7 linked regions of the Homo sapiens genome follow. The protein of the gene in region 2 interacts with the protein of the main gene of each other region in a pairwise test. Each region holds a gene or a part of one and is shown on either strand. Other genes may lie near its edges. The genes, in order: FMR1, MAGEB6, CLN3, EEF1D, TPPP, HACL1 and CCT8.

The links.
Region 1: the proteins of MAGEB6 (region 2) and FMR1 interact in binary tests that used the Homo sapiens proteins (3 or more experiments, as listed by UniProt).
Region 3: the proteins of MAGEB6 (region 2) and CLN3 interact in binary tests that used the Homo sapiens proteins (3 or more experiments, as listed by UniProt).
Region 4: the proteins of MAGEB6 (region 2) and EEF1D interact in binary tests that used the Homo sapiens proteins (3 or more experiments, as listed by UniProt).
Region 5: the proteins of MAGEB6 (region 2) and TPPP interact in binary tests that used the Homo sapiens proteins (3 or more experiments, as listed by UniProt).
Region 6: the proteins of MAGEB6 (region 2) and HACL1 interact in binary tests that used the Homo sapiens proteins (3 or more experiments, as listed by UniProt).
Region 7: the proteins of MAGEB6 (region 2) and CCT8 interact in binary tests that used the Homo sapiens proteins (3 or more experiments, as listed by UniProt).

The regions. Positions count from the first base shown.
Region 1 is NC_000023.11:147,935,919-147,939,418, reverse strand, and holds part of FMR1 (fragile X messenger ribonucleoprotein 1), read right to left. Parts: intron 2,916-3,500; coding exon 2,806-2,915; intron 1,954-2,805; coding exon 1,819-1,953; intron 1,321-1,818; coding exon 1,258-1,320; intron 1-1,257.
Region 2 is NC_000023.11:26,191,079-26,195,239, forward strand, and holds the start of MAGEB6 (melanoma-associated antigen B6), read left to right. Parts: upstream 1-1,361; 5' UTR 1,362-1,449; intron 1,450-2,707; 5' UTR 2,708-2,768; coding exon 2,769-3,992; 3' UTR 3,993-4,161.
Region 3 is NC_000016.10:28,482,075-28,485,574, forward strand, and holds part of CLN3 (battenin), read right to left. Parts: intron 2,045-3,500; coding exon 1,932-2,044; intron 599-1,931; coding exon 552-598; intron 472-551; coding exon 403-471; intron 309-402; coding exon 253-308; intron 125-252; coding exon 31-124; intron 1-30.
Region 4 is NC_000008.11:143,587,416-143,590,915, reverse strand, and holds part of EEF1D (elongation factor 1-delta), read left to right. Parts: exon of another isoform or gene 1-308; intron 309-834; coding exon 835-1,925; intron 1,926-3,500.
Region 5 is NC_000005.10:662,353-665,852, forward strand, and holds part of TPPP (tubulin polymerization-promoting protein), read right to left. Parts: intron 2,974-3,500; exon of another isoform or gene 2,945-2,973; coding exon 2,750-2,944; 3' UTR 1-2,749.
Region 6 is NC_000003.12:15,591,570-15,595,069, forward strand, and holds part of HACL1 (2-hydroxyacyl-CoA lyase 1), read right to left. Parts: intron 112-3,500; coding exon 31-111; intron 1-30. UniProt on the Homo sapiens protein: Peroxisomal 2-OH acyl-CoA lyase involved in the cleavage (C1 removal) reaction in the fatty acid alpha-oxydation in a thiamine pyrophosphate (TPP)-dependent manner.
Region 7 is NC_000021.9:29,063,649-29,067,148, forward strand, and holds part of CCT8 (T-complex protein 1 subunit theta), read right to left. Parts: intron 3,424-3,500; coding exon 3,243-3,423; intron 3,130-3,242; coding exon 3,068-3,129; intron 1,458-3,067; coding exon 1,320-1,457; intron 1-1,319. UniProt on the Homo sapiens protein: Component of the chaperonin-containing T-complex (TRiC), a molecular chaperone complex that assists the folding of actin, tubulin and other proteins upon ATP hydrolysis.

The sequences.
Region 1 (3,500 bases), about 120 Mb from region 2:
ATTTCAATAATGTACTCTGAAAATTTTAAAAGGCTGAATCACAAGGAAAGTTTGAACTTCTCTCTATGGACACTACTTAACATAAGAACAGATTTTTAAAAGGCATATGCTAAATGTCTGTACTCCTAGCCCATATATATATATATTAAGAGGGAAAAAAAAAACAACTACTTCTTGTCACAAGTTATAGGGAAACCTAGAAACAATTGTGCAAATTAATAACTGGCAATTCATTTCTGCATGTTGGGTTTTTCTCCAACAAGCTTTATTTGTTACAAAAGCCTTTAACTGTATTATTTCCCAAAATACCATGTGATGGAATGAATGCTACACCCTTCCCTCTGGGTCAAATATCACCAAAATAGCTTTAAAATCCTATGTAACAGATTTAGTTAGATTGACTTCGGAGCAAATTATTTACGAATATCTTTTCTTGCAACATGTCTAAACTGCTGGAGTACCCCAAGGGCCACTCTAATTTAAGCACTTCACGAGTAGACCTGAATAGTAAATTAAAATGAAGAAAGGCAAGAATGGAATGATGGCCTTTAGTACGGACCCCAGAAAAAAGTTACTCTGTGTTCTGGAATAATGGGCTGCCCGGCAATGAGACATATCCAATCCACTTGCCGTTATAGTCCTCTTTGTAAAATGGCACCTTTGCTTTTAATCCATGAGTCCACAACATTTTTTTCCATAAACAGTTCTCACCAGCTCTCCCTGCCCTCAAAGAACTTACAATGTGGTTGAGGAGATCAACAAATAAACATCTATGTTTAAGTGCTATGCTAGGGGTGAGCACATTGCAAAACAGAAGGGGAAGGCTCTTGAACCAGTCAAGGGGGTGGGGATCTTCGGCAAGTACACAAGGAAAGCTTTGTAAGGAATAAGGTCAAAATGAGGTGACATGTGGAGGAGAAAAAGCATTCCAGGCAGAGTAAACCTGTACATATGTCTAGAAGCAAAATAAGCACGAGAATGTTCAGAGAACTCAAAGTACTTCAGTATGGCTTAAGGTTCTCTAGAGTGCAAGGGAGAAGATAATTTAAAGATGATAACTAGACAAGTAATTAGGAAAAGCCTTACAAGCGGCATGAAGGTGTTTAAGCTTTAACTCCAGGGCAATGGATCCACATACCCACAAACACTCCTCCCTCCAGTCCCTAATCCTGAGGATCATTTGTAATCTTTGTTAACAAGGGGAATAAACATTAAAATATAAACTGAAAGTGTATTTCTCAAGGAATGTTTTCCTACCTGCCAAGCCTTGAGTTCAGGTTTCTGGGATTCCCCTGCTACAACTGATGAAGCCACTAACACCTAAAGCAGTATAAGGAATGCAAGGGATGTCATTAACTATAACAAACGATACACAGAAGCCTGAACGCAGGACTTTCACTGCAGGACTTTTAAACCCATTTCTAAACAGATTAGTTCAAACAGAGAAAATTAGTTTCTAAAATATGGTTCAAGTAGTAACTAATGCAACTAACAGAAGGTGTATTTTGAGCTACGATACCTGCAAAATTTAAAGAGAGAAGGCATGGAAAAAAGAGAGTCCACTGTCAAAAGAAAAATGTGACCACTAAATGCAACCCCATTATTTTGTGTTTATGGCATAAGAGTTGTTACTGTGAATAAATTGAAAAGTATGTATCACACTAATTTGTAGTATCTCATAAGCTGGCAATTACATTTGGAAAAAAAATAGAACATAAGTAGCCTACAAGTCTAACCAGAGAAAACATCCAAAATACCAATTGTGACATCTGAGACAAATTACTTGTATTGTAATTCAAAGTGACAAGTAATTCTTACCCTCTGGACTTTTGTACTGTTAGGTTGAGAAAAATGGGTGCTGTTTTCCTTTATATCTAAATGTTTTTTTTCTTCTGGGGCATTAGGTCCAACCCTTGAATTATTGGAAGGAAGGGAATTTGGTGGCATAATTTCCTTGGTAAAAAACAGAAAACACAAAAGAGAAAAAAAGGACCAATTTAAGACTTTATTTAGCTCTATTAGTGTTATCAATCATCATATTTTTAAAAAATGTAAGTTATTATAAACAGTTTTGGTTTATAAAATTACCGAATACAAATTGTACGCAGAAAAAAAAGATTTAACTTTAGCTAAAAGAATCTTTCAAAAAGAAAGCTAGACAATATGTGAAAATTACGGCTCTTTGATGAGACAGTATCTTAAGAGTACTATTGCACAGAAAGGTGCATCCTCACCTCTCTACCCCATGCAAATACTTTAAAAGCTGCTACAAAAAGCATATATTTATGAAGATAAAAGGGTTACAGAATTTAAAGGTAAGGAGGATGGGGAAGAGATATTAAGCACAGAAATAAATTTAAAGCACACAGAATAAACACACATACTACACAATCCCCACACTAAAAAAGTGAAAAGATGAAAGCCAGAAAACCTGTGTTCCAATTTTGCTTTTGTCAGCAACATTAACATTTACAAAGTGCTTTACGAAGCATTTACATATATATTATTTTATTAAATTGCCATTAACACTCGACCCAGTGATGTATGTCTCATATTTAAAAATTTATAACTACCCATTTTAAAGATCAGGAAAAAAGAATTCAATAAAGTGACTAATCCAAACTCACTGCATTAGAGGACAGAGAAGGGCCATTATCTACAATTATAACATTAATTACAGCAGGCATGCTTGATAATCAGAATATTTGCATTCACTTTATGCACATATTAGAGGTCCTCAACATATCACATAAAAAACTTTTACTTTTATTATATGTGCCACAAAATATTCGCACTGTAACATACCTCTTCTTGTGGAACATTTTTCTCATTTTCAGCCTCAATCCTCACCCTCACAACTCCTGACTTGTCCACAATCTCCTGAATCAGCTTTCCATTTTTTCCTATTACTTTGCCTAAGAAATAAATAAATCAAGTTTGGTTTTAAAAACACATACCTCAAAGCAGTAAGCACAGCCCTACTGTAAACTATTACATTCATATAGATAGATATTTTTATGTGTATGTGTATGTATTGAATTGTAAGATTTCAAAACCAAAGTAGAGACTCTTTTCAACAAGATGGTTAATCTGGTTTTCTGTTTAATTAGGACATCATTGTTTAAACTCCTTTGGTCAGGTACCAGAGTTGATTAATACTTGCAAACTGATAGGGTAATTTTGGATTTTTAAGGCAGTTCAAAGATAACCTCTTATTTTTGCACAAAAGGGTACGCTTTAAACTTGCTGGTACTGTGGTATGTATCATTCTTTCTGCAAAGTTCTATAAGAATTAAGAAAAAAGTAGAGAGAATGGGAAATATATTCACTTATTCAACACTTTCAATTCTTGTCTGTACCTGATTTAAATCTGCTTCTTTGTCCATGGTAAATATTTTCAGAATTCTGTATGGAAGGCACATTTATAAAAGATAATCTAAGTCTGAAAGTGGCTTAAGCAGCTATACATACATCCAAAAGGAATACAAATTCTTCAAGGT
Region 2 (4,161 bases):
TTGCCTTAGCCATAGCTGTGAAGATGACAACCAAACCCGGGTGGTTCTTTCCCATGACCAAACTCAACCATAGAAAAGTTAAAGGAAGAATTTTTTTTTAAAAAAAAAGCAGTATTAACAACAGCAAAACAACAAAAATGCGAACCTTGAGAGATGGTCAGTTTGTATTGAACAAGAATGGGTGTGTGGGCAGGTAGGGGCATGAGCTGAAGTAGAGACAGGTCTGTGGCCTACAACAGACGCAGATAACGGAATTGGCTAGAGGAAAAGCTTTAAAACTTTGGTCTTTGCTTCTTTCACTGTGCCATTGGACAATGCATTTTTTTTTCTGCTTCACTAAAGGAAATTCAGTCAGAAACTTGGACCCTATGTGCCAGTTCCATGGGGTAATATTGCCACAGCAAAAACATCTGGGTAGGCTGAAGAAGTATGAATCCAGACACTGTGCTAATAACTACCTGAAACTTCTTTAGTGGAAGTGGACTGGCCTTTAAATTCGTATTATTTTAATATAATATAAAGAATGGACTAAATTAGGATAGCAAATATTGCAGTGAGTCACACAAGATAATGGTAGAAATTCATTCATGAAGGTGTTGAATACAGACACTGATGTCAGCCAAGAGAGAAGTCCCAGACATAGCTATCAGGCTAAGAAGTCTTCTCACTTTCTCCTTATGAATTTTACAGGATCTAGTCAGAGGAAGGGGATGAATTTACATCAGAAAATGGAGAAAACTGAGACCCTGCCAGCAGTCAATGTGAGGACCCTGAGTGAGGACTGAGGGGCTCCACATATCAGAAGAGACAAGAGTGCCCCCCAAATCTCCCTTCATTCCCCGATCTTGCATCACAACTTAATAGCAGCAGCCAGGTTTAGGAGGCCCCAGGCAGTAGTGGCCAGGTGAGGTGTAACTGAATTGCACATGAGGAGTCTCAGGAAGTTGAAGTCTAGTCTGAGAGGGTGTCCTCAAGTCAGTAGAGGGGACATGGCAAGAATGAAGCGACGACACTGAGTGAGGGCTGAGGGCAAAGTCCATTCCAAAAAGGGGGTCTCACAGAGCTCCACCCCTACTGTCAGTCTTGGAAGGTCCCGGCATGGCTCCCGAGCTCAGGCTGCACCTTACTTCCAACTCTGGACTCTCAGGGAATGAGAGCCTCTATCTCCGGTTGACTGATTCAGCTCAACAGATAGAGAAGTCCAAGGGTCCGCGAAGAGCCCCTGAAAGAACTTTACGTGAGTTCCCTGGAATCTGCTGCACCCACAGAACACAAGGGGGAGTAACAGAGCCCTGCAGCTACTGTTACGCAGGGAGCGCCAGGTGGGCGTGGCCGGAAGTGGTTCCTCTTGACTTCCACCTAATAAAGGGGTCTGAGCCGGTCGCCTGAGCCTGAAAAGTGCTGTCACGTCAGCGGAAGGAGGCGTCCCAGATCTTCTCAGCTGTCTTGGTGGGTATCCTGACCTAGAACGGGGGGCATTCCCCGACAACTTCAACCCCCTTCCCCCGAAGAAAGGCGGCTCCACAGAGCCCTGCCCCAACCTGCCCCGACCTGGTCCCTGAGGAGTCCCCAAACATGGCTGTTAGGCCCAAAGTCCATTCATTTTTTTCCGTCGTGTTGAAGAACATGAAGGCCTCGGTCCAAGGCTTGTGGACCCAGGTCAGTAGAGGGAGAAATCTCAGGCCCTACATAGTTAAGAGGACCCTCCTTAGAATTGAGGGAGGGGATTCCATGTCCCGTAACGGGTTGCACCGAACTCTGCCCTTGACGTTAGCCTGGGGGTCCGGGCAGGTCTCTAGAGACTGAGGTGCATTCTCACTTTGTCCCTGTGAGAGTCAGAGAGGTAGGCCCCTGGTTGTAAGGAGATGGCAGCAGGTCAGTGAGGGTGATTTCCAGGTTGTGGGAAGAGTCAGGGTGAGGAGTCTAATTACTGTGAGGAGCATTCTCACTATAACTGGAAGAGCACTCAAATGCCTCCGCTGTTGTCAGCCCTAGGTGGTCTGGGTGTCCCCGGAATGAAGTGTTGGGCAGAAGTGCTTCCTTATTTCCTCCGGGTTAAAATTCCTACTGTCAATTTCAGAGTGGCACAAGGAAATGGGCCTCTGGGTCTTGTCAACAATTTTTTTTTTATTATACTTTAAGTTTTAGGGTACATGTGCACAATGTGCAGGTTTGTTACATATGTATACATGTGCCATGCTGGTGTGCTGCACCCATTAACTCGTCATTTAGCACTAGGTATATCTCCTAATGCTATCCCTCCCCCCTCCCCCCACCCCACAACAGTCCTCGGAGTGTGATGTTCCCCTTCCTGTGTCCATGTGTTCTCACTGTTAACTTCCCACCTATGAGTGAGAACATGCGGTGTTTGGTTTTTTGTCCTTGCGATAGTTTGCTGAGAATGATGGTTTCCAGTTTTAATGATGATCCTGAATGTAAACAGAGAGGATCCAACCCCTGAACAGAGGGGCCCCCACTGCCAGCCCCTGCTGTCACCTCAGTAAGCCCCAAAATGGGCTGTCATGCTATAGTCTAATACTCTAACTTCCTCCTGAGTTTGAAGGAGACAAACTGACCAGGAGAAAAGGAGTCCTGTGGGTTCCTAGAGCAGCTGTTCTGCGGAAACCTGCAGAAGGGGCCCTAGTTAAAGCCAAGATGGTCGCTCTCTGCTGAAGATATTGACGTGACGTCACTCTCTCCCATCCAGGTGCCAGCCTTCCTAGTCTTCCTACCCACACTCCTACCTGCTGTCACAGGCCACAGCCATCATGCCTCGGGGTCACAAGAGTAAGCTCCGTACCTGTGAGAAACGCCAAGAGACCAATGGTCAGCCACAGGGTCTCACGGGTCCCCAGGCCACTGCAGAGAAGCAGGAAGAGTCCCACTCTTCCTCATCCTCTTCTCGCGCTTGTCTGGGTGATTGTCGTAGGTCTTCTGATGCCTCCATTCCTCAGGAGTCTCAGGGAGTGTCACCCACTGGGTCTCCTGATGCAGTTGTTTCATATTCAAAATCCGATGTGGCTGCCAACGGCCAAGATGAGAAAAGTCCAAGCACCTCCCGTGATGCCTCCGTTCCTCAGGAGTCTCAGGGAGCTTCACCCACTGGCTCTCCTGATGCAGGTGTTTCAGGCTCAAAATATGATGTGGCTGCCAACGGCCAAGATGAGAAAAGTCCAAGCACTTCCCATGATGTCTCCGTTCCTCAGGAGTCTCAGGGAGCTTCACCCACTGGCTCGCCTGATGCAGGTGTTTCAGGCTCAAAATATGATGTGGCTGCCGAGGGTGAAGATGAGGAAAGTGTAAGCGCCTCACAGAAAGCCATCATTTTTAAGCGCTTAAGCAAAGATGCTGTAAAGAAGAAGGCGTGCACGTTGGCGCAATTCCTGCAGAAGAAGTTTGAGAAGAAAGAGTCCATTTTGAAGGCAGACATGCTGAAGTGTGTCCGCAGAGAGTACAAGCCCTACTTCCCTCAGATCCTCAACAGAACCTCCCAACATTTGGTGGTGGCCTTTGGCGTTGAATTGAAAGAAATGGATTCCAGCGGCGAGTCCTACACCCTTGTCAGCAAGCTAGGCCTCCCCAGTGAAGGAATTCTGAGTGGTGATAATGCGCTGCCGAAGTCGGGTCTCCTGATGTCGCTCCTGGTTGTGATCTTCATGAACGGCAACTGTGCCACTGAAGAGGAGGTCTGGGAGTTCCTGGGTCTGTTGGGGATATATGATGGGATCCTGCATTCAATCTATGGGGATGCTCGGAAGATCATTACTGAAGATTTGGTGCAAGATAAGTACGTGGTTTACCGGCAGGTGTGCAACAGTGATCCTCCATGCTATGAGTTCCTGTGGGGTCCACGAGCCTATGCTGAAACCACCAAGATGAGAGTCCTGCGTGTTTTGGCCGACAGCAGTAACACCAGTCCCGGTTTATACCCACATCTGTATGAAGACGCTTTGATAGATGAGGTAGAGAGAGCATTGAGACTGAGAGCTTAAGGCAGGGCTGGCACTATTTCCTTGGCCAGGGTACCTTATGGGGCCATATCCTACAGATCCTCCCATTTCTAGGGAGGTCTGAAGTAGAATTTTCACTTTATGTTAGAAGAGAGTAGTGAGCTTTCTAAGTAGTGCAGTATAGTAGAGGCTGGAGGGAACAAGATATGTA
Region 3 (3,500 bases), on a different chromosome or scaffold from region 2:
GGAGTGAAGTGAGGGGCAGGGGTTTGGTACCTGCAGCAGGGCCAGGGCCCAGGTGAAACGGATGCGACAGCAGCGGAGAGAAGAGCGGGAGGCAAAGACGCCAGCCTGGTACAGCATCTGGTACCTGAGGTTAGGGTTGGGGGGAGGAGAGGAGGCTCCTCCAGGGACCATCCCGCTCCCCCCGGTGCCTACTGGGCAGGGCAGCTGCATCACCACGGCGCCCTCCCAGCCCACTGCCCTCGCTCCTCTTACCAGCGGTATTGCTGAGCGTGACTCAGGGAAGTGTTCCAGAAAAAGAGGAGTTCAAACTGCAACAAATACCAGACAGGGGAGATGGACGGGGCTGTGTGGGTCCCAGCCCCAATCGCCACCTCCACACCCCTCCTAGCACCCCTCACTTACAAGTCCCTGGTTAATGAAATACTCGGCAAAGTAAACTACGACCAAGGGAACAATGTACCACAGCAGACCCTGGAAAAGGCAGAAGATATAAGCGGGGGGCCTGGAGGTGAGCAAGCCCCACAGGGACATACCCCAGCCATCATCCGAACCTTGAACACTGTCCACCTTTCCCGAAGGGAGAGGCTGGAGCTGGAGCCTGCAGGGGAACAGAGAGAGAAGGGCAGATGAAGTTTTCACACTGAAGACTCGGCAAAGAGGCACCGGTATGACAGAATTAACCAGACCACGCAACAGTGGGAACTCACTTCCATGCCACTGGATTGGACACTTAAAAATGGTTAAAATGGCTGGGCGCAGTGGCTCATGCTTGTAATCCCAGCACCTTGGGAGACTGAGGTGGGCGGATCACCTGAGGTCAGGAGTTCAAGACCACCCTGGCCAACATGGAGAAACCCCATCTCTACTAAAAATACAAAAATTAGCCATGTGTGGTGGCAGGTGTCTGTAGTCCCAGCTACTCGGGTGGCTGAGGCAGGAGAATCACTTGAACCCAGGAGGCAGAGGTTGTAGTGAGCTGAGATTGCGCCATTGCACTCCAGCCTGGGCAACAAGAGCGAAACTCCACCTCAAAAAAATAAAGTAAGATAAAAAATAATAAAATGGTAAACTTCAAGTAATATACATACTTTATCATGATGAAAATAAAAGCTAACCAGGTGAGACCTCTTCACGTCTCTTTGATTTTTAATTTTTTTTATTTTTTGAGACAGAGTCTCACTCAGTTGCCCAGGCTGCAGTGCAGTGGTGCAATCTCAGCTCACTGCAGCCTCTGCCTCCTGGGTTCAAGTGATTCTCGTGCCTCAGCTTCCCAAGTAGCTGGGACTACAGGCATGCACCACCACACCTGGCTAATTTTTTTATTTTTAGTAGAGACGGGGTTTTACCATGTTGGCCAGACTGGTCTCAAACTCTTGATCTCAAATGATCCATCTGCCTCAGCCTCCCAAAGTGCTGGGATTACAGGTATGAACCACCACGCCCGGCCAATGTCTCTTGTACAGCTCCACAGATGGCCATTGGCCCACCCTGCCCAGTCTCACTGGCCATTCTCTGGTTCTAGAACATCCCAGCTTATCCCCACCGCAGGGCCTCAGCACTTGTGATTGGAATGCCTGGCACATGGTAAGTACTCAATTAATATCCCTTCTTCTCTCCCTCCCTTCCTTCCTTTCTTTTCTTTTTTTTTTTTTTTTTTTTTTTTTTGCGACAAGGTCTTGCTCTGTTGCCCAGGCTGGACTCAGACTTCTGAGCTCAAGTGGTCCTCCTGCCTCAGCCTCCCAAAGTGCTGGGATATTACAGGCGTGAGCCACTGTGCTCGTCCTCAACAAGTATTTCTCAAATAGACAAAGGCTTTTCCCATAACCAGTACACTCACTCTCTTTCCCCTCTTAACTTTGCCTATTGCAGAGAGGAAAAGGCCAAACCCAGAGAGAAAGAAAGTGACCTCTCTGAGGGTCTGTGTCTCCTACCTGGCTTCGACTCCGGGGCCTCGGTTCTTATGAGGGGCTGCCGGGCTGCGCTCTCTGCTTCTTCTTCCCCTCCAGGGTCCTGGGCCTCAGGAGATGTGAGCAACAAGAAATAGCTAGGAGTAGGATGAAGGCAGGGTCAGAAAACCCTACTGGCTGGGAAGGTCCCCAGGGACCATCTAGGCCACTTTTCCCAGGGAACACCTCTACCTTTGAACACTTTCAAAGATGGGTAGCTCACTGCCTCTAAGGCTCCTACGCTGTGCGGGAGAGCTCCAATTGTGGACAAAGGCTTCTTTCTTTGGACCTGAATTTATCTCCTTATTCCTATTCATGGGCCTTCATTTTGTTTTGATTTTTTTCAGAGACAGGGTCTTTCTCCAGCATCCAGGCTGGAATGCAGTGGTGCAATCATAGCTCACTGCAGCCGCGACCTCCCAGGCTCAAGCAATCCTCCCGCCTCAGCCTCCCAAGTAGCGGGGACTACAGGCACGTGCCACCAAGCCCGCCTCATATTTTCCATTTTTTGTATAAATGGAGTCTCGCTATGTTGCCCAGGCTGGTCTCAAATTTCTAGCCTCTAGTGGTCCTCCAGCCTCAGCCTCCTAAAGCACTGGGATTACAGCTGTGAGCCACTGTGCTCAGCAGGCCCTTGTTCGGACTGCTGGCTCATACCTAGCGAGTCAGTTCTGTTTTCTGGCCATTATTATTCTAATGGTCGCTCTAGCTCCCATTAATTATACGTTCACTCTGTGCTAGGCCAGAACTTCCTCGATTTTAGTCACTTAGGTTCTGGCTTCATGTTATTTGCCATATCCATATTCCTCCTGTATATATATATTTTTACTTAATATTTTTCTTTAAATGGACTCACTTTTTCTACTTAGACTTGTCCTAAGCACTAATCTTGTGAAGGGCCAGGTGTGTCTGGCTAGTTCAAAGTGTGTGTTTTTTTTTTTTTTAGACGGAGTCTCGCTCTGTTGCCCAGCCTGGAGTGCAGTGGCACAATCACGGCTCACTGCAACCTCTGCCTCCTGGGTTCAAGCGATTCTTCTCCTCAGCCTCCCAAGTAGCTGGGACTACAGGCAAGCGCCACCAAGCCTGGCTAATTTTTGTATTTTTAGTAGAGACGGGGTTTCACCATATTGGCCAGGCTGGTCTCAAACTCCTGACCTCGTGGTGCGCCCGCCTCGGCCTCCCAAAGTGCTGGGATTACAGATGTGAGCCACCATGCCCGGCCAAAGTGTTTTGTAATATGCATGAAAATACACAGAACTAATCAGGCCGGGCGCGGTGGCTCACGCCTGTATTCCTAGCATTATGGGAGGCCAAGGCAGGTGGATCACTTGAGGTCAGGAGTTTGAGACCAGCCTGGCCAATACAGTGAAACCCCGTCTCTACTAAAAATATAAAAAATTAGCCAGGCATGGTGGCATGGGCCTGTAGTCCCAGCTACTCGGGAGGCTGAGGCAGGAGAATCACTAGAGCCCGGGAGGCCGAGGCTGCAGTGAGCTGAGATCACACCAGTCACTGCACTCCAGCCTGAGTGACACCATGAGACTCCGTCTCAAA
Region 4 (3,500 bases), on a different chromosome or scaffold from region 2:
CTCTTTTTTTTTCTTTTCCCCTGCTCTGTTGTCCAGGCTGGAGTGCAGTGGCGCCATCTCGGTTCACTGCAAGCTCCGCCTCCCGGCTTCACGCCATTCTCCTGCCTCAGCCTCCCTAGGAGCTGGGACTACAGGCGCCTGCCACCACGCCCGGCTAATTTTTATTTTTATTTTTAGTAGAGACAGGGTTTCAACGTGTTAGCCAGGATGGTCTCAGTCTCCAGACCCTGTGATCCGCCCGCCTCGGCCTCCCAAAGTGTTGGGATTACAGGTGTGAGCCACCGTGCCTGGCCGAGGCTCCTTCTTTTGTAAGAACTTTGAGGGTGCTCTGGGTGTGGCAGTGGTGTGGCCAGGACAGCCACAGAGACCGTTCTGTAGAATGGGAACACCAGCCACCATGGTGGGGTGGCCAGGCCTGGCCTGTGGAAAAATGCAGGGAAAGCTAGTTAGCCAGTTAAAGCTTATTTCAGATAAATGACGAAAAATTTTTAGTGTAAGTATGTCTCAGATACTTCATGGGCCATACATTCACTAACAAAATTATATATTGTTCATGTATTGGGAGGCACTTGGCCTCCCAGAGTACTGAGATTACAGGCATGAGCCACTGCGCCCGGCCTGTTTTCTCTTCACAACAAAACGTCCCCACATGGGCTTGACTTCGAAGTCCTCGAATGTCATCTCATGGAAGCCCCACTGGGGAGCATCCTCAGCCCCTGCCCAGGGAGGGCAGCCACGGGGAGGGCGGGCACGGGGAGGGTGGGCACGGGGCTGCGGCCACCCGCTGTGTTGCAACTCTGCCCTCTGCTTGCTTTTTATCGCTGTGTCCGGAAGATGAGGAGCGGGAAGGCCTCCTGCACCCTGGAGACCGTGTGGGAAGACAAGCACAAGTATGAGGAGGCCGAGCGGCGCTTCTACGAACACGAGGCCACACAGGCGGCCGCCTCCGCCCAGCAGCTGCCAGCCGAGGGGCCAGCCATGAATGGGCCCGGCCAGGACGACCCTGAGGACGCTGATGAGGCGGAAGCCCCTGACGGCGGCAGCAGGCGTGATCCCAGGAAGAGCCAGGACAGCAGGAAGCCCCTGCAGAAAAAGAGGAAGCGCTCCCCCAAGAGCGGGCTCGGCCCCGCGGACCTGGCCCTCCTGGGCCTCTCGGCCGAACGCGTGTGGCTGGACAAGTCACTTTTCGACCAGGCAGAGAGCTCCTACCGCCAGAAGCTGGCAGATGTGGCTGCCCAGGCAGCCTGGCCTCCTGCCTTGGCCCCTTGGGGTCTCTGCACCCATGGAAACCAGGTGGCCTGCCACCACGTGACCTGGGGGATCTGGGTCAACAAGTCCTCCTTCGACCAGGCTGAGCGGGCCTTCGTGGAGTGGTCTCAGGCCCTGTTGCTGGCCCCCGACGGCAGCCGCAGGCAGGGGACTCCCAACACAGGCCAGCAGGTGGCCGTCCCCGACCTGGCCCACCAGCCCAGCCCACCGGTCAATGGCCAGCCCCCGCTGGGCAGCCTGCAGGCACTGGTTCGGGAGGTGTGGCTGGAGAAGCCCCGGTATGATGCAGCCGAGAGGGGCTTCTACGAGGCCCTGTTTGACGGCCATCCCCCAGGGAAGGTGCGCCTGCAAGAGCGAGCCGGCCTGGCCGAGGGTGCCCGGCGGGGCCGCAGAGACCGGCGGGGCCGCAACATCTTAGGGAACAAGCGGGCCGGGCTGCGACGGGCCGATGGGGAGGCCCCCTCTGCCTTGCCCTACTGTTACTTCCTGCAGAAGGATGCAGAGGCCCCCTGGCTCAGCAAGCCTGCCTACGACAGCGCCGAGTGCCGCCACCACGCTGCCGAGGCCCTGCGGGTGGCCTGGTGCCTCGAAGCTGCCTCCCTGTCTCACCGACCCGGTCCTCGGTCTGGCCTGTCCGTGTCCAGCCTGAGACCCAAGTAGGAGAAACGTGCTGGGTGGGCACCCAGCCTGGGCTGTGGGCACAGGGACAGCCATCCCAGGCTGGGGCTCCTCCAGCTTCCTCCCCTGCCCACCTGGGGTGGGGGCTCCCCGAGACCCGTGGGCCCAGCAGAGTTGAATGCAGGAGCAGGCTGAGTAAAGGTGGTGCTGCGCTTGTGGGTTCCAGGGACACTGCTTGAGGTTACAAAGTTCCAGGCTGCCTGGATGAGGGCAGGGAAGGGCTCAGCACAGGGCAGAATCTCTGCCTTGCCCAGGGTCCCTCTTTGGCTGGGAAGCTCCCCAAGTCCCCTGTGGCTGTCACATGCCAGGGCTGAGAAGATAAGGCTACTTATAGGGGCGGGAAGCATTGAAGCTGGTTTCTGGCCCTAGCGCTCCCCTGCGATGAGATGTGGGAGCCAGTGTGTCCCTGCCTGTCCATCCTGTGCACCCCCAGCTTTCCTTGTCACCTGAAACCACCTCTGAGGGAAGGTGGTGGCGTCTCAGATGCATGGGCATGTGGCTGGTCAGGTGGCCTCCATCCCAGGGTGCCCCGTCTGTGTGACCTCCCTCTGGGTGCTGTGGGCTTGCTCCAGGGTGCAGGTGCAACCCCAGCAGCGGTCTCTGGGGCCAGGCAGGTGGGTGGACGATTGGACTTGGAGGGGAATACAGAGGGCATGGAAGTGGCGAGGCTGGCCTGTTGGCGAGGGTGTCCTGGTGGTGGGGCGGGCTGAGTCAGGGAAGGACTCTGAAGGTCCCAAGCAGCTGCTGAGGCCCCCAAGGAAGTGGTTCCAACCTTGGACCCCTAGGGGTCTGGATTTGCTGGTTAACAAGATAACCTGAGGGCAGGACCCCATAGGGGAATGCTACCTCCTGCCCTTCCACCTGCCCTGGTGTTCACGGTGGCCTGGTCCCTCCTTGCCGAGAGAGTGTCCTGGGTCAGGGACGCAGAGGACGCTCACAGACTCCAGCCCTTTGTTACCGAGAGGACACTTGGCAAGGTCCAGCGATGGTCCGGAGTCCACACACAGACTGGCGGCAGGGCAGGAGGGGGACAGTTCTGTTGTGCTTGGTTGGACAGTAAGAGGGTCTTGGCCAGTCCAGGGTGGGGGGCGGCAAACTCCATAAAGAACCAGAGGGTCTGGGCCCCGGCCACAGAGTCATCTGCCCAGCTCCTCTGCTGCTGGCCAGTGGGAGTGGCACGAGGTGGGGCTTTGTGCCAGTAAAACCACAGGCTGGATTTGCCTGCGGGCCATGGTCCCTGTCTAGGGCAGCAATTCTCAACCTTCTTGCTCTCAGGACCCCAAAGAGCTTTCATTGTATCTATTGATTTTTACCACATTAGCAATTAAAACTGAGAAATGGGCCGGGCACGGTGGCTCACGCCTGTAATCCCAGCACTTTGGGAGGCCGAGGCGGGTGGATCACCTGAGATCAGGAGTTCAAGACCAGCCTGGCCAACATGGTGAAACCTTGTCTACTAAAAATACAAAAAATTAGCCAGGCACAGTGGTGTGCACTGGTAGTCCCAGTTACTCGGGAGGCTGAGGCAGGAAAATCGCTTGAACCCAGGAGGC
Region 5 (3,500 bases), on a different chromosome or scaffold from region 2:
TTTTCTCGAGGCCGTGCTTGTCTGAGGCCAACCAGGGACCAGGAGGCAGCGTCCTGGTGCCCAGCACCTCTCCTCAGTGTCCCTCGTCCCCACAGACCGGATCAGGGCCTGGCGAGCCTCTGTGCCTGCCGTGCGGTGTGAGGACCCGCGGACCCCAACCCGCCCTTCCCTCCGTCCTGACCCGGCGCCAGGCTCAGCTCCAGGGCGAGGTCCTCTGGAGTCATGTTCGTTCTGCGTGGCTTGGCCGTGACTGTGGGGACTGGGCTGCCCACGGACAGAAAGGAGAAACGCAGCCTGTGACCAGGAGACGCAGCCCAGGGTGGAGCCGCGCTGGGGCCAGGGAGGCCGAGGAGGGCAGGAGTCCGAGGGTGTAAGGGTGCCAGGGCCTTCCGGGTCTCAGGCTTCGGGACCTGGGGAGCCACCCTGTTTGGTGACCACTCGTCCTCGGCCTTTTCAACACAAGGGCTTTGGAGTTGTGATGGGCTGTTATCGGGTGATTCCGGTGGCCACTCGTCTGTGATCGGGTGATTCCGATGACTGCTCGTCTGTGATCGGGCGATTCTGGTGACCGCTCGTCTGTGATCGGGTGAGTCCGATGACTGCTCGTCTGTGATCGGGTGATTCCGATGACTGCTCGTCTGTGATCGGGCGAGTCTGGTGACCGCTCGTCTGTGATCGGGTGAGTCCGATGACTGCTCGTCTGTGATCGGGTGATTCCGATGACTGCTTGTCTGTGATTGGGCGATTCCGGTGGCCGCTCGTCTGTGATCGGGCGATTCCGGTGACCGCTCGTCTGTGATCGGGTGAGTCCGATGACTGCTCGTCTGTGACCGGGCGATTCCGGTGACCGCTCGTCTGTGATCGGGTGATTCCGAACCGCACATTCAGAGTTGTTTTCAAATGTTTCCGCACGTTAGTTCTGCCTTTCACACGCGGTCCAGCCAGGTTCAGCGGGGGCACAGGGCTGGGCTTGGGCACCCCCCGCCTTCCCCAGGCCGGTGAGGTGACATCCTAAAGGAGCCACGAAGCCTGAGGTCCATTTTTCCTTGCTCTTTATTTCCAGGCACTGAACTTCCCAGCCCTGCCGTGGAAGCTGCCTGCCAGGTCCTCCCCATCCTCAGGTGGAGGCTTCTCTGTTGAGGGGCCTCGGAGACCGCCCCCCAGCCCTCAGCGGACCATGCTGGCTGGGAGCTCCGCCCTGGGGCTTCTGCTCTGCTCAGGTAGGGGGAGTCCTTCCACGGAGCTGTGGCCGCAGCAGGTGCACTCTTGGGAGTCGGGGAGGCGGGTGGTGCTCATGCGTGCCAGTGAGGGAGGGGCCTCGCCACCCTCCTGTACTGTGAGCCTGGCCCTGGGCAGCCCTCTGCCCTGGCCAGAGCCTGACCGTAGCCACGGGCTAACAGGCTCTGGAAAAGTTTCCCCAGGACTGCCGCAGGCTCATCCGCAGGTAGACTCCAGAACCACGGCCCAGCAGGTCACACGTGTGGCTGTGGCTGTGTGCGTGCCAAGGGACAGTGGCAGTGTGCCATTGTGACAGCGGGTGGCCACACCCGTCAGCCTCCCCAGGAGGGAGCAGGAGCGCCGGCTTCTCCCCAGGTGCAGACAGGCAAGGGCGGGCCGCCTGGGTGTGTCCTGGCAGTGTGGAGTGTCCTGGATGGGCTCTGCTCAGCCCCCTGCTGGCAGAGAAACCCCCACAGACACTGCAGGACTGGGGGTCCTCCCTAGTGTCCTGCTCTCCGGCGGGGGGGATTGGCCAGGAGAGGTTAGGCTGAGCCATTTTGGGAGAGTTGAAGAAGGTGCTTGGGCTGTGGCAATGGGAGGTCTGCGAGCAAACAGGGTGCAGCTAGTGAGGACGGGCGAACGGGAGGGCCGGGCAGAGGCTCTGTCACGCGGTGAGGCGAGGAGTGTCTCGGCACTTCGTGTCTCTTGCCTGGCAACACCACAGGGACCGGACATTCTGAATCTTCCCAGACCCGCTCTGAGAACATAGGCAGCCACCGCATCTTCTCAGGAAAGCAAAGCGAGCCTACTCTACCCTCACAGTCCAAGCCACTGTGGTCAGCCGGGAAGCCGCCCACTGCCCCTGACGGCTTTCGTTTTACCTAGGTTGCCCTTGGCACAGAGCTGGCCTGTAGGCATGTGTGCACAGGTGTGTCCATGTGACCGGCTTCCCCACACATGTGCCAGGCGCCCAGCACCCCCGCCAGGTGGCCTCACTCTGCCCTCTGCCCAGGAAAGCAGGAAGGCCCCGTGGTGTCCGCTGCACACAGGACAGGCCTCGGGCCCCACAGACACCTCCCACGTCCGGTGTGGGGCCAATTCCGTGTTAGTTGCCTGCTGGTTGGGGTTAGCTCCTGCCACCCTCAGGGCTCCTGGAAGGTGTCTGCCGCTCAGGAGGTCAGCACAGCCTCCTGTTGCCATGACAGCCAGCTGCTTTAAAACGCCCCTTTGACCTGCAAACCACGTGCCCAGTGTGGTGTGATCCGCGAGACACTTTGGAAATGGCTGAGGACGAGGCAGGTGTATTAGGAGGGTCAGCGAACTGGGGCCCAAACCTGGTTTGAGAGGGGAGTGCTGGGGGCATCCGGTAGGAGGAGGGGCAGGAGGGAGGCCTGGGCCTGGCCGCCCCCCAGCCCCCTCTGGGGCACCCGTCTGAGTTCTGCCCCAGTTAGTACAGGAATGTAATGAAGTGCGAGGTGACAGAGTCCCTGCTCTGGGGACACCGGCAGTGCCGCGAGGCATGGAGCGGGGGCTACTTGCCCCCTTGCACCTTCTGGTCGTAGGTGCCTGCGTGCTTGTAGCCGGACACATAGCCTGACTCGTCCACCAGATCCACGCGGCCAGCCTTGCCCTTGCCCTTGCCAGAGGGGTCGAAGCGCTCCTTGTGGGAGCCCGTGAACTTGGTGGTGTCCGTGAGCCTCGACACTGTGGGCGACGAGATGGCTTTCTGCAAGAGGAGCAGGAGGAAGGGGGCAGGTGAGTTGCGAGCCAGGTGAGGCCAGCAAGTGAAATGGCTGTGCCCTGGGCAGGTCTCCCAGCGGTGGGGCACTGGGCAAGGGGCATAAACCCTGGGATTTATGCCCCTTTTAATTCTTATTTTTACCTCTCCTGACCCTGGGGCAGCCTTGGGCCTGCGGGGTGCCACAACCCTAACAATTGCCCAGGTCCACCTGGTGTTTATGTAGTTGGGGACCCCACCACCTGCACCCTCAGAGGGAAGGGGCTGTCAGAACAGCCAGGCCCCACCCTCCAGGCTATGCCCCCCCAATCCATGCCCCTTCAGACCAAGCCTCCCCAGGACCCCCCCAGGCCACGCCGACCTGGCCATGCCTCCCAGGACCCACCCACCCCCTCCCAGGCCAACTCCCAGTCCATGCCCTTCCTGACCACGCCTCCCCAGGCCTCACCCTCCAGGCTATGCCCCATTCATGCCCCTTCTGACCACACCTCCTCAGACCCCACACCAGGCCACGCCCTCCTGACCACGCCTCCCAGGACCCCCC
Region 6 (3,500 bases), on a different chromosome or scaffold from region 2:
AAATGTTTTCAGTAATAATAATGTCATTACCAGCAGTTCATGTTTGCATTTGCCATACCGCCCAAGGCATGGATGAGACCTGGGCCAGAAACAACAAGGCAGACTCCTGGCCTAAAAGCAAAACAGAATTTATTAAAATCAGGTCAAATGTAACAACTGATTCATAACACTTTAGTGTGAAACATGGCAATCTTGGACTTCAAAGGAAGGACATACAAGTCTTTACTATAACTGATAAAACAATTATTAGAATATTTTTAATTAAAAAACAAGGCGATATATATATATCGCGATATATATACATACACACATATACGTATATAGTGTATACACTATATATGTATATAGTGTATATATACGTATATACGTGTATATATACACACACTATATACATAGTGTATATATATACACACTATATACCTATAGTATATACTATATACGTATATATACACACACTACATACGTATATATACACACACTATATACGTATATATACGTATATACGTATACGTATATATACACACACTATATACGTATATATACACACTATATACGTATACATACGTGTATATATGTATACATACGTATATACGTATACATGCATGTATATATGTATACATACGTATATATGTATACATGCGTGTATATATGTATACATACGTATATACGTATACATACGTGTATATATGGATCCATATATACGTATACATACGTGTATATGTATACATACGTATATATATGTATACATATATGTATATATACTCTGGGCACCAGAGTATACTCTATATATATGTATACATACAGACACACGTATACACACACGTGTATACATGTAGACACACGTATACACACACGTATGCATGTAGACACACGTATACATACACACACGTATACATACACACACGTATACATACACTTGTATACATATACACTTGTATATACACTTGTATACATATACACATGTATACACATGTACGCACATGTGTGCGTGTATACACATGTACGCACATGTGTGCGTGTATACACATGTACGCACATGTGTGCGTGTATACACATGTACGCACATGTGTGCGTGTATACACATGTACGCACATGTGTGCGTGTATACACATGTACGCACATGTGTGCGTGTATACACATGTACGCACATGTGTGCGTGTATACACATGTACGCACATGTGTGCGTGTATACACATGTACGCACATGTGTGCGTGTATACACATGTACGCACATGTGTGCGTGTATACACATGTACGCACATGTGTGCGTGTATACACATGTACGCACATGTGTGCGTGTATACACATGTACGCACATGTGTGCGTGTATACACATGTACGCACATGTGTGCGTGTATACACATGTACGCACATGTGTGCGTGTATACACATGTACGCACATGTGTGCGTGTATACACATGTACGCACATGTGTGCGTGTATACACATGTACGCATATGTACATATATACTCTGGGCAAGAGTGAGATGCTATCTCAAAAAAAGTGTATATATACACACACATATACATATATGTGTGTGTATATATACACACACATACGTATATATGTATATATACACACATACACACATACGTATATATGTGTGTATATATACACACATATATATGTGCGTGTGTGTATATATATACACACTTTTTTTTTGAGATAGCATCTCACTCTGTTGCTCAGGCTGGAGTGCAGTGGCATGATCAGGGCTCACTGCAGCCTCAACCTCCTAAGCTCAGGTGATCTTCCCACCACAGCCTCCCAAGTAACCGGGACTACAGGCAGATGCCACCACACCCGGCTAATTTTTTGTATTTTTTTTTGGTAGAGATGGGGTTTCACCATGTTGCCCAGGCTGGTCTTGAACTCCTGGGCTCAAGCAATCTGCCTGCCTTGGCCTCCCAAAGTGCTGGGATTACAGGCATAAGCCAGCATGCCTGGCCCAAAAAAAGAAAGATATCGGATTTCTTGTGAGAAATAAGGTACCTATCATTTTCACACCTTATGTCTCTAACCACTTATTTTGATCTGGACTACATCTGGACTAAATCAAGTTAATGGTATACAGAAGCAAATTTTTGACTGCTGAGTTCATTTTTGTATGAAAAAAGGTTTTTTTTTCATTTCTTAACAAATAAATATAACGTCGACTGATCTTTGATAGGAAAGTAATTCTGAATGCAGTGCTCTGCCCAAAATGTTTTGTGTTTTTTTTTTTGTCTTTTTTTTTTTTTTTTTTGAGACGAAGTCTCGTTCTTGTTCCCCAGGCTGCAGTGCAATGGTGTGATCTCGGCTCACTGCAACCTCCGCCTCCCGGATTCAAGTGATTCTCCTGCCTCAGCCTCCCAAGTAGCTGGGATTACAGGCATGTGCCACCACACCCGGCTAATTTTTGTATTTTTAGTAGAGACGGGGTTTCACCATGTTTGGCCAGGCTTGTCTCCAACTCCTGGCCTCAGGTGATCCACCCGCCTCGGCCTCCCAAAGTGCTGGGATTACAGGCATGAGCCACCGCGCCTGGTCCCCAAAATCTTTTAAAACTGAATTTGAGGCTGAGCACGGTGGCTGACGTCTGTAATCCCAGCATCTTGAGAGGCTGAGGCAGATGGATCACTTGAGTCTAGGAGTTCAAGACCAGCCTGGGCAACATGATGAAACCCTGTCTCTAAAAAATATAAAAACTAGCTGAGTATGGTGGTGCACACCTGTAGTGCCAGCTACTTGGGAGGCTGAGGCAGGAGAATCGCTGGAACCTGGGAGGTGGAGTTTGCAGTGAGCCGAGATGGTGCCACTGCACTCCAGCATGGAGACGACAGAGTGAGACTCCAAATAAATAAATATTGAACTTGAATGTTTTACCCTTCAGTGTGACTTTCTAAGCTTAAACCACTCGGGAAAAAGGTATCTCAATATAATTCAGTTCACCATTTTACACTTATAAAATAATTTCTTAAAAATTTCTGTTTAAGACAGACTTGAAAATAAGTAATTACCACCAAGTAAACTAAACTTCTAGAACAGTACTATCCAACAGAACTTTGTATAGTAATAGAAATGTTCTGCATTTGCAGTATGATACGGTAGCCACTACTGACATGGTTACTGAGCACTTGAAATGTGGCTACTACAAACTGATAAACTATGATTTAAATGTTATTTAATTTTAATTAATTTAAATGTAAACAAGTCATACGGCTCGTGGCTACTATACTTGCCAGTGCAGCTCCAGAAGTTCATTCAAACAGCAAAAATGTTTTAAATATGAACTTTTCGGCCGGGCATGGTGGCTCACGCCTGTAATCCCAGCCCTTTGGGAGGCCAAGGCCAGCAGATCATGAGGTCAAGAGACAGAGACCATCCTGGCCAACATAGTGAAACCCCATCTCTACTAAAATACAAAAATTAGCTGGGTGTGGTGGTGCATGCCTGTAATCCCAGCTACTGGGGAAGCTGAGGCATGAGGATCGCTTGAACCCAGGAGGCAGAGGTTCCAC
Region 7 (3,500 bases), on a different chromosome or scaffold from region 2:
GCATATATTATGAAGCAGCAGAATACTGTATGTGTGAAATAGAAACTCAGCTTGCTTCTAGAACCCCCTGTCAAAACAGATGCATCTGCTTTTGATAAGTACTTAGGTGGAAAAGTACTTTTATCTATTTATTTATTTTGAGACAGAGTCTCACTCTGTCACCATGCTGGAGTGCAGGCAGGATCTCGGCTCACCGCAACCTCTGACTCCCTGGTTCAAGCGATTCTCCTGCCTCAGCCTCCCAAGTAGCTGGGATTACAGGCAAGCGCCACCACGCCCAGCTAATTTTTGCATTTTTAGTAGAGACGGGGTTTCACCATGTTGGCCAGGCTGGTCTTGAACTCCTGACCTCGTGATTTGCCTGCCTTGGCCTATGCTGGGATTACAGGCGTGAGATACCGTGCCCGGCCGAGAAGTGCTTTTATTTTAAATATGTCAGGTAGGTAGGTGTCCTGGTGTTTGTCTTTTGACAAAGGCTAACTAGTGTTCCCAATACAACATTGTGGTTCTCAAACTTTTTCTAAAATGTGGACTAGGCCGGGCGCGGTGGCTCATGCCTGTAATCCTAGCACTCTGGGAGGCCAAGGCGGGTGGATCACTTGCAGTCAGGAGTTGGAGACCAGTCTGGCCAACATGGTGAAACTTTGTCTCTATTAAAAATACAAAAATTAGCCAGAGATCACTTGAACCCAGGAGGCGGAGGTTGCAGGGAGCCAAGATTGTACCACTGGACTCAAGCCTGGGTGACAAAGCAAGACTCTAAAAAAAAAAAAAAAAAAAAAAAAAAAGAATAAAATACAATAAAATAAAATATGGACCAAATGACCAGACCCCCCTCATGCTACAAAATTTTAAAACTATCAACAACTTGGATTTCAAGAATTCTAGAGATGAAGTCAGCCACTATTGACTATAAACACAAACTTCAAACTTTCTAACATGTATTTTTAGAAACATACTTACCATTTTCAAATTACATTAGCTTATCTTGTTTTAGGATGCTACAGAATGTCAACTTTATTTTCGTGAAGAGCACACAAAATACTCACATTCTCATATTCTTTCACTTGCTGAATGTATAAGCTCTACTAGAAGGGCTGTGTGTCAGATTATAAATAATACGGCCACCATCTTTATATTTCCAGTTTAATGTTCAGTAGTTGAATTAGATATTTGAAGACTATAAATCTGGCATAAAAAAATAGGTAAGATCCTGCAATGTTCAGTTTTTTAAGAAGTACTTACTGGTTTAAGAGCTAACTCAAACAATCTGAAAGTGCAACCCCAATTATTACTTTTAAGGTTTGAAGTCTACATACCTTAGTTTCTGTTATCATGCCATCAAAAGGACAAGAGTACACTGCTATTTTTGCATCTTTGACAGATGTTACATCACCTTCGGTTTCCTTCTTAAAAACCATGCCATGCAATACTGAAGAGGAACTGATACCAGAGCCCTAAGGAATTGAATACCAAACTCATCAGCAATCTCCTGAAAATAACATTACGGTCAAACTGTTGATTCTCCATATACCAAAAATATCCCTTTCTAAAATAAAGTCATAAACCAAGGCAGTGACTCCTGGGATAAGGGGTGGAGTGGTGGACATACAGCACACCCTTCTGCTCGAGGCAGAAATCACTGAGGGAATGAGCTACTTTTAGGGAGGGGAGGTCCTTCCATGTACTGGGAAGAACCAAAGGCAGAGAACTGGTCTTAGCCATTCAGTTACCTAGTACTTGGTGCCAATATACCAGCCACAGCTGTCAGTACTGCAAATACAACACAGAACAAAGCAAAGATTCTGTTCTCACAAGGTTGCATTTAATGGGAAAAGCTGGCAGTACGTGGAGGGAGACAGCAAACATAGAACACGTGAGTATCTTCAGGGAAAGCACATGTACTTATGTTATGCTAAATTCACATTAACAATCAGAATGCCAATGTGCAAAACCAAAACCATTCCACTGATAGGTTTTACTCTATCAAGCACATTTTATCAAAAATATACTTTAATATTTCAATACTAACATTAAAGTGTGAATTCTATTATTGAAGAGGAATAGGACGATTTCCACCCCACTCAAAACTGTCTTATAAGCTTATTATAATTCAGAGTATTATGAAGAACACAAAAAAATTAGTATTTTGCGCTGGGCGCGGTGGCTCACACCTGTAATCTCAGCACTTTGGGAGGCCAAGGTGGGCAGATCATGAGGTCAGGAGTTCGAGACCAGCCTGGCCAACATGGTGAAACCCTGCCTCTACTAAAAAAATACAAAAATTAGCTGGACATGGTGGCATGCACCTGTAATCCAGCTACTTGGGAGGTTGAGGCAGGAAAACCACTTGAACCTGGGAGGTGGAGGTTGCAGTGAGCCGAGGTCGAGGCACTGCACTCCAACCTGGGCAACAGAGCCAGACTCCATCTCAAAAAAAAAAAAAAAAAAAATTTAGTATTTTGTTTATACATTATTCTTAAACCCACAAGACATCACAGAAAATGACTTTATAAGGAGATAATATGTCAATATCCTTTTAAACTTAAATAGGTAGTAGTATTATTACAACTTAGCAACATCAAAATGTTACAAAATAATGCCTCAAAGGCCAGGCACGGTGGTTCACGCCTGTTAATCCCAGCACTTTGGGAGGCCAAGGCAGGTGGATCACCTGAGGTCGGGAGTTCGAGACCAGCCTGACCAACACGGAGAAACCCCATCTCTACTAAAAATACAAAATTAGCCGGGTGTGGTGGCGCATGCCTGTAATCCCAGCTACTCGGGAGGCTGGGACTGGAGAATCACTTGAACCGGGAGGCGGAGGTTGCGGTGAGCCGAGGTCATGTCATTGCACTCCAACCTGGGCAACAAGAGCGAGACTCCGTCTCAAAAATAAATAAGTACATAAATAAAAATAATGCCTCAAAAAAAGTCCTAAGTGTTCAAATCATGAAGTAACATTTAGGTTTAGATGAACACATTTTTTTTTTTTTGCACAAAAAAACAAAAAAAGCACACAAAAAAACTGACCTAGATATGTAGCATTAATGCATTTTCTACTTACCAGAATTTTACAAACTCTGATGTTATCAACATTGAAATGGCCGGAATCAGGAAAAATAGATACTGTTAAGAAAATGAGACATATCAAAAGATTATTTTGGGACAACAGAGAAAGTATCTAGTCATGTTAAAGGTATTTTTATTTTGGATCTTTTCATTTACTGATATTTACTTACCGCATGCCTGAGCAATAAGCTTGGCCAGAAATACTTCATTACCATATTGTTTACTCATTATGGAGGTACGAAGTAGAGATGAGACTTCATCAATATCTCGAAGGTTTTTTGCAGAACAACATACCAAATTAGGAAGAATCTCATGAGCTTTTCTGCAGGCTATTTCATAACCTTCTATGACCTAAAACATAAACAACATTTCCTATTCTGACATGACTTAAAGTAGCTTATTTTGGTAACCCAATGCATATGGATGTT